2 linked regions of the Homo sapiens genome follow. The protein of the gene in region 2 interacts with the protein of the main gene of each other region in a pairwise test. Each region holds a gene or a part of one and is shown on either strand. Other genes may lie near its edges.

Region 1 (3,500 bases), on a different chromosome or scaffold from region 2:
GGGGACAGTGAAGAGGAGGAGGATGATGAGCGGAGGGGCCGCGGCTGCACCCTGCAGTACCAGCACGCCATGGTGCGGGTCCTGACGCAGTTTGTGGCTGAGGCGGCCGGCCCTGGGGGACACCTGGCCCACCTGCTGGGCTCAGACTGGCAAGTGGACATCACGGAGCTGATAAATGACTTCATGCAGGTGGAGGAGCCCAGGATCGCCAAGCTGCAAGGCGGACAGATCCTGATGGGGCAGGAGCTTGGGATGACCACCATTCAGGTAAAAAAAAAAAAAAAAATCCCCAAATCAAGATCTCTCTGTCTTCCCACCTCTGCTCTACCTAGAGGAGAAACCAGCTGTTTGTCATTGCTGGGAATGGTATCTATTTTTAGGATGGGTAAATTCAAAGAAATTGTGGAGTAAGCAATACAAGCGATTTTGGCTGGGTGTGGTGGTTCACGCTTATAATCCCAGCACTTTGGGAGGCCGAGGCGGGCAGGTCATGAGCTCAGTAGTTTGCGATTAGCCTGGGTAACATGGCGAAACCCCATCTCTACCAAAAATACAAAAAATTACCCGAGTGTGGTGGTGCATGCCTGTGGTCCCAGCTACTCGGGAGGCTGAGGTGCAAGGATCGCTCGGGCCTGGGAAGCAGAGGTTGCAGCGATCTGAGATCGTGCCACTACACTCCAACCTGGATGATGGAGCTAGACCCCATCTCAGACAAAACCACAATGCAAGCCATGTAATGATGTGATGAGAATCTCAAAATTCCTCACATATTACTTATAGGGGAGAAACTCTGGGCTGGCTCCCATGGTGGCTCACGCTTGAAACACATGATTTTGCCCAAGCCATGGTAGGCGTTACCATCTTGGTAAACAAGCTTTTGAGGTGAGCTTACCTGATCTGAATCACAGGCACGGCCAGCAACTTCCTGCTGAGCCACTTTCCGCCACTGAGCATGGTCACCTAAACCTTCCCACGGCTTCAGGATATTGTGGCCGCCCCTACCGAGTCACAGCCGCGGGCCTGATGAGAACCTGAACAACTCAGAAATGTGCTAAAGGACGAAGTGAAGTGATTGTGCCTCCATATGTCTCGTGGGCCCCTTCTGCTGGGGAGCGGGTGACGGAGAGGACCAGTGGCAACACTTGGGTTTTGAAACACTTTAACAAAACAGTGTTCTGGGAGGCTTGTAAGGGTTTGGTCATTTACCTCCCAGCTGAGAACAAAGCAAGAGATTGTTTTCTTTCTGTGTACATGTAAGGGGTGCAAGTGCAGCTTTGTTACCTGGACATATTGCGTGTCTGCCTTGTTAGTGTAGCCATCACCCAAATAGTGTACATTGTAGCCAAAGGAAGAGTGTATTACTCAGCAGCTGCCCCATCTGCAGGCAATGCGATTGTCTTATCAGGCAATCTGTGAGGTTTCTAAAACAGCTGTGCATGAGGAATCATTATAACTGAGACTAGATTGGATCGTGGAAGATTTAAAACATATCCATTCTGGAAAATTGGCTGGTATATCTAACACTTCATTTTATCCAAGGAGGAAAATAAATGGGTTTGGGCCGTAGACCAGGAGTCGCATGCTCTAATGATCTCTAAAGGCTGAGAAGCTACCATCAGTGAGGAGAGTAGGCTGGGTGTGTGCTGAAAGACAGACAGCAGCTGATTTTCCTCTGAGTGTTAGAGAGACAACAGGGAGTGGTGGTGCCTGTGGAAAAGGGGCAAGCTCTTACTCAGAGCCAAAAGCTGCCAAGAAGAAACGCAAGTCTACTGCAGCCATATGTTGCAATTTTCCAGAAAAGCTGGAAGTCTGTTTTTATATGCAATCTTCTGGCTCTCTAAATGATGGTCATTAATTCTACCTTAAAATATGATTTATGTCAGACAAAACATATCTGTCTCATAGATGAGAGCTTGCAACCTCCACAATTGACTAAGAAGTTGAAAGACCTGAATCCCTACCATAAATCTATAGGCTAAACTGATACTGATGCCCAGAAACTCACAGCGAGATGAGAATTTGGTATTAACATCTTCCCTTAAGTGATAATTTAAGTGCAAAGGGGAAAAGCCATACCGTTCTGAAACCAGGTGTCAGGGAAGAGGAAGTGGGCCAGCTTCCCACACATTAAACATGAACATTATTTTGGTGAGGCCTCTACTCCTGCGAGCCTTGGTTCTTTTCTCTTTTTTCTCACTGTGTCCTCCTGAGTCATAAATTCACTTGTCCACTTTCTTCTGGGGACACACCTCTCATGCTCGCCACCATTTAAATTGTCCCAATCGGACCAGAAAGTGAAGGTGGCATTCGGGTAGAAGTATGGAGCTTTGATTCCTGGTCTCAAAGGGTCCTGGGAAAACTGCTGTCTTGACCTACATCATAAATATCACCAAAAACTTGAAAAGAGAAAGAGGTCGAGAAAGCAGGAGAATGGAGGATGAAGCCCATCTCTTCTAGAAGGAAGGTTGTTATACGGGGCTGTGAGGAGTCTAAGACAGCTGTTTATCATTTGGGCGAAGGGTGAGAGGAGGAAGAAGTGATTCCACAGACGTTCCTCAAAAGCAGGATTTCCTGTTCAGGGTCTAAATTGCACATAAGCCTCATTTTCCAGGTCATTCCAGGTGTCCAGAGGAGAAATGAGGCTTTGGGTTGTGGGCATCAGGCGTAGACATTCAGAACCTACGTTTATCAGAATATGCCCAACGATATTCCTCATCAACAGGCATCATGCGCTGCGTTTCCCAAAGTGTACAGTGTGGCCTCCAGTGACACGCGTGATTGAGATGGACCAGCAGGATCCGCCTTCTAGTTGCACATTGGTTTTTATGTGCAAGAGCGAAAGCTATCAATATGTAACCAGTACACCCAACCCGTCATTCACTGGTGATAGGAAGGCTTTTGAAAAAAACAAATCATTTAAGTAAAATAAATAATTTTAAACAAAATACACACTGTGCTGTAGAAGAATCATAAAGCTAATAGTCGAATGAAAACGTCAGTTCCTCCTGTCCAGGATGGAGCATGGTGGGAAACGGAGCTGATGTGTGGGGTGTGGGGAGAGGGCCAAGCCCTACCTGCCCACTCCTTGACACCACCTTGCTTTATGCAAAAAATGCATTACATTTTCTCAAGCAATACATATGATTCAGAAGGTGGTGTGAGTGGGAAAGGCCTGTTCTCATTCATTCTGGCTCACATGTTGCCCTGCCGCTGCCTGCACACTGGCACTTCCTCCTGTGACTGGAGGCATTGCCTGGACCACAGAAAGCCTTTCCTTGTCATGTCGCTTCTGCCCTCCAGATCCTGTCTCCTCTGTCAGACACCATCCTCGCTGAAAAGACCATCACTGTGCTGGACGAGAAGGTGACCATCACAGACCTCGGGGTGCAGCTGGTGACAGGGCTGTCACTCTCCTTGCAGCTCAGCCCAGGAAGCAACAGGGCCATCTTTGCCACTGCAGTGGCTCAGGAACTTCTGCAGAGGCCAAAACAGGTATGGAG
Region 2 (3,500 bases):
TGAATAATTAGGTTGTTTTAGAAGGGCAATAAAAGCTACAGCTAAGTTCCTGCGATCTATAATTTATAAAATAATTACATATTATTTTGAATAACTTCACAGAATCAGTGGCAAGCAGAGACTTCTTCAAAAACATTTGGAATACGGAAGTAGAGATTGATGGGCTTTGCTTTAGTCTCTGAAATAATCATATTTTTCTGAAATGGATGGTTAAATTTATCATATTGTTCTAGACACTTGGAGTGTAATAATGAACAAGAGAGAAAATTGCCTGCCCTTGTGGAGCTTACATTCTAATGTCACACACACTTTGTGCATTTTAGATTGTTAGGGGAGGAGATTTTTTAATGAAACTTTAAAACCTAGCTGCTTTCTTGTCTTAGGAACTACAGTTTGAAAGAGCCTACAGAAGTTTGAGAAGGAGGAAGGTGTTTACCAGTTGGCAGTGATAGGAAAGAAAGATCTTAGTTTATTTCTTATTTGTACCTTTTGTTATTGTCATGAAACTTTCTCCATATATTTCAGTTGGTAATTTTAACAGATAGGGATTTTTTTCATGATTTTAATAATGTCTTTGAAATTAATAAAACGTTGCTTTATATTAAAAAAATCTTGTGTCTTGAAAGTTACTATAAAATTCCTACATAGTATTATCCCGTTAGCAAAGTATGGTAAAACAAAAGCTAGAATATCTGTTAATTTTTGGTTGGGATTTGTTTTTAGGAACATATCTGAAAAATCAAGTACCTAAATCTTTTTCAGTTCTGGGTTTCTTTTTCGTTTTTTGAGATGGGAATCTCCTTTTATTGCCCAGGCTGTACTTTAACTCCTGGGCTCAAGTGATCCGCCCTCCTGCCTCAGCCTCCTAGTAGCTGGGACTAAGGTGCATGCCACCATGCCTAGTTTCAGTTGTGATTTTATCAAGAGAAGGTGAAAATTTATTGTAATTAGTTTATAGGCGACATTAAAGAGGAGAGACCTGCAAAAAATGCTTTGTTATTTAAACCATTTTTTCAAAAGCATTTGATTGGCACTTTTCTGCTTTAATAGACTTATTTGTAATGCAAGAGGAACATTACAGAAGATTTTAGCAATACTTTAATCATTTAGTCTGTAGGTGTAAAAATCCTGGGTTTCTAATAGAAGGAAAGTTGGTACCTGGTTAAATGAGTATATGATTTAATGCTGAGATTGTGACTTCAAGTAGTGGGTGTCTCACCTTTCCAAAACCTAGTTCATAGTTCTCAAATAACAGTTTTTCCTTTTTAATTTTTTTTCCCATCTGTCATGGTGAGTCTTACTTTGTTAGCCAAATACAAGTTTAGTTCTTAAGTGGAATAACTTTTTTTAATACAATCCTCCCTCCTCCAGCCCTCCCATCCTGTGCCGTGGAGGGTTTGTCACGCTTATACCTACATTAGATCTCTATTTATGCTAATTTGGAACATAATCAGCCTCTTCCAGGAAGGGTACATATTAATGCACTTTAGAGCAGTTTGTGATTGCCTCTGGCTATTTGTATACGGACTTGCCAGCATCTGAAAACTATAAATAGGAAGATTTAGGAGGAAACAGACTTTATAACTAATGGAATACATTGTTTCAGTTGAATTTTTTTTTTTTTTTTTTGATGGAGTCTTGCTCTGTCGCCAGGCTGGAGTGTAGTGGCACAATCTTGGCCCGCTGCAGCCTCCCCTCCCAGATTCAAGCAATTCTCCTGCCTCAGTCTCCTGAGTAGCTGGGACTACAGGCGCGCACAGCCACGTCCTACTAATTTTTTTGTTATTTTTAGTAGAGACAGGGTTTCACCATGTTGGCCACGATGGTCTTGATCTCCTGACCTCGTGATCTGCCTGCCTTGGCCTCCCAAAGAGCTAGGATTACAGGTGTGAGCCACCGTGCCCAGCCTCAGTTGAATTTTTTTTAAAGAGCAAAATGGAAGAATGGCTAATTGAATGTTAAAAAGTAAGACCATTTCCTGTTTTCTGGTAAGGATGGTTGATCGATGTGTGTTTGCATGTGTGTGTGAGTATATATTTATAAATGAGCAGTTTTTGAATAAAGACATATCAATACTGGATAAATAATTCCAGTCCTGCCTGTGGTCCTTGACATGGAGTGTATTCAGGGTTCCCTGGTGATTTTGTTTAAGCCACTTTGTTACCAAAACTTTCCTATGGATAGCATAGAAACACAAGCTAATTAAATTTCTATAAATTTTATATTTTTGGGATGAAGTGTTATTTTGGAAGTATTTTTTTAAGCATGATTACCAGCCAACCTGTGAAATGAATGAAATCTGAAGTGCAGAGTTCATGGAACCTTATATCCACCTAAGATAGTTGAGTTTCAAGAAGGTATTTTTAACGGCAGAAGATGAAATCTTGACATCTATCAAGTTTTTATAGTAATAAAGTAAGCATGACTAAGTTTATTAATATTCATATTTGTAAGGTAAGTCTAAGCATGTGTACAGTGCATTTTAAGTCAAAATTTGGGGTGTTATTGGCTAGACACAGTCATTTCTTTGCCAGAGATACTAGGCTGTGTGAAGGCTAACCATCTGTCAAGTGATAGAGACAAAGAAAGGTTTTAATATACTAGTCTAAAATTTCCACAAACTTGTTTTGAATGGTATTGTCATTTTCTTTTGGCCTTCATACTCTGTGTTGAATATGCACTGGGTCAGTCACCCTACTTTGTTTTATGAACAAACTATTCAAGGTCCAGATGAGGTTATTGTCACAGCTGATGTGATCTAGAGGCAAGATAAAATATGTTTTGATTTTGCTTTCATATAATCAAAAACTCACAGTGGGCCACCCACTAGTAGTTACACAAATGGTTTCAAGTGTACTTGTTTTCACCCACCCATTCTGAATTTTGGGTGTCTTAATTATTTTGCTTTATGTATTCAAGCCTTGTATTTCAAACCCATTCCTGAGCTGTTTGGGGGAAGAAAAAGTAGCAACAGGAATCCAGATTGCCTGTTTTAGGTACAATATGGTGTGATGTGAAATTGAAACAGCAGATTGGTGAGAAACTTTAGTTTCAAACAAATATAAACTAGTTTGTTTAGTGAAGTCATACACAAAACAGTAGTCTCTATTGACAGGGCAATGTTTTTTTCAGTGATTCCCATATCATGAGGTCACTTTTGTTCTTTGGGCCAACAGTCTGTTTTCAAGGTGTCATATAAGAAAAGCACTAAATACTGCTGATTGTAATGATATACTTACATATGGCAGCACAAGAAATTATTTATAGCAGTGCTAATTATATCAATAAAAATAGCAATATTAATACTGTGTCAAAATCCATTCTTGACAGTATGAGGTAAACAGAACTATAGTCAAACAAAGCAGCCAGCCTGTCTTTACTGTCAGCTCACAGATATGCACTTTAAGAAAAATATACACACAGTTTAGAGAGTTGAGTGTACCAATTTAATCTCTTTTCAATTACTTTTGGCTTTTAAAAAGATGTTCTAATTCAACATA

What was found. The genes of interacting proteins can lie anywhere in the genome.
Region 1: the proteins of ZBTB20 (region 2) and TMEM132D interact in a two-hybrid assay, tested with the Homo sapiens proteins (one large-scale study listed by BioGRID).

The regions. Positions count from the first base shown.
Region 1 is NC_000012.12:129,078,526-129,082,025, reverse strand, and holds part of TMEM132D (transmembrane protein 132D precursor), read left to right. Parts: coding exon 1-267; intron 268-3,300; coding exon 3,301-3,492; intron 3,493-3,500. UniProt on the Homo sapiens protein: Regulate neuronals morphology via inhibition of the WAVE regulatory complex (WCR), a complex that controls F-actin cytoskeletal dynamics.
Region 2 is NC_000003.12:115,140,789-115,144,288, reverse strand, and holds part of ZBTB20 (zinc finger and BTB domain-containing protein 20), read left to right. Parts: intron 1-3,500. UniProt on the Homo sapiens protein: May be a transcription factor that may be involved in hematopoiesis, oncogenesis, and immune responses. Plays a role in postnatal myogenesis, may be involved in the regulation of satellite cells self-renewal.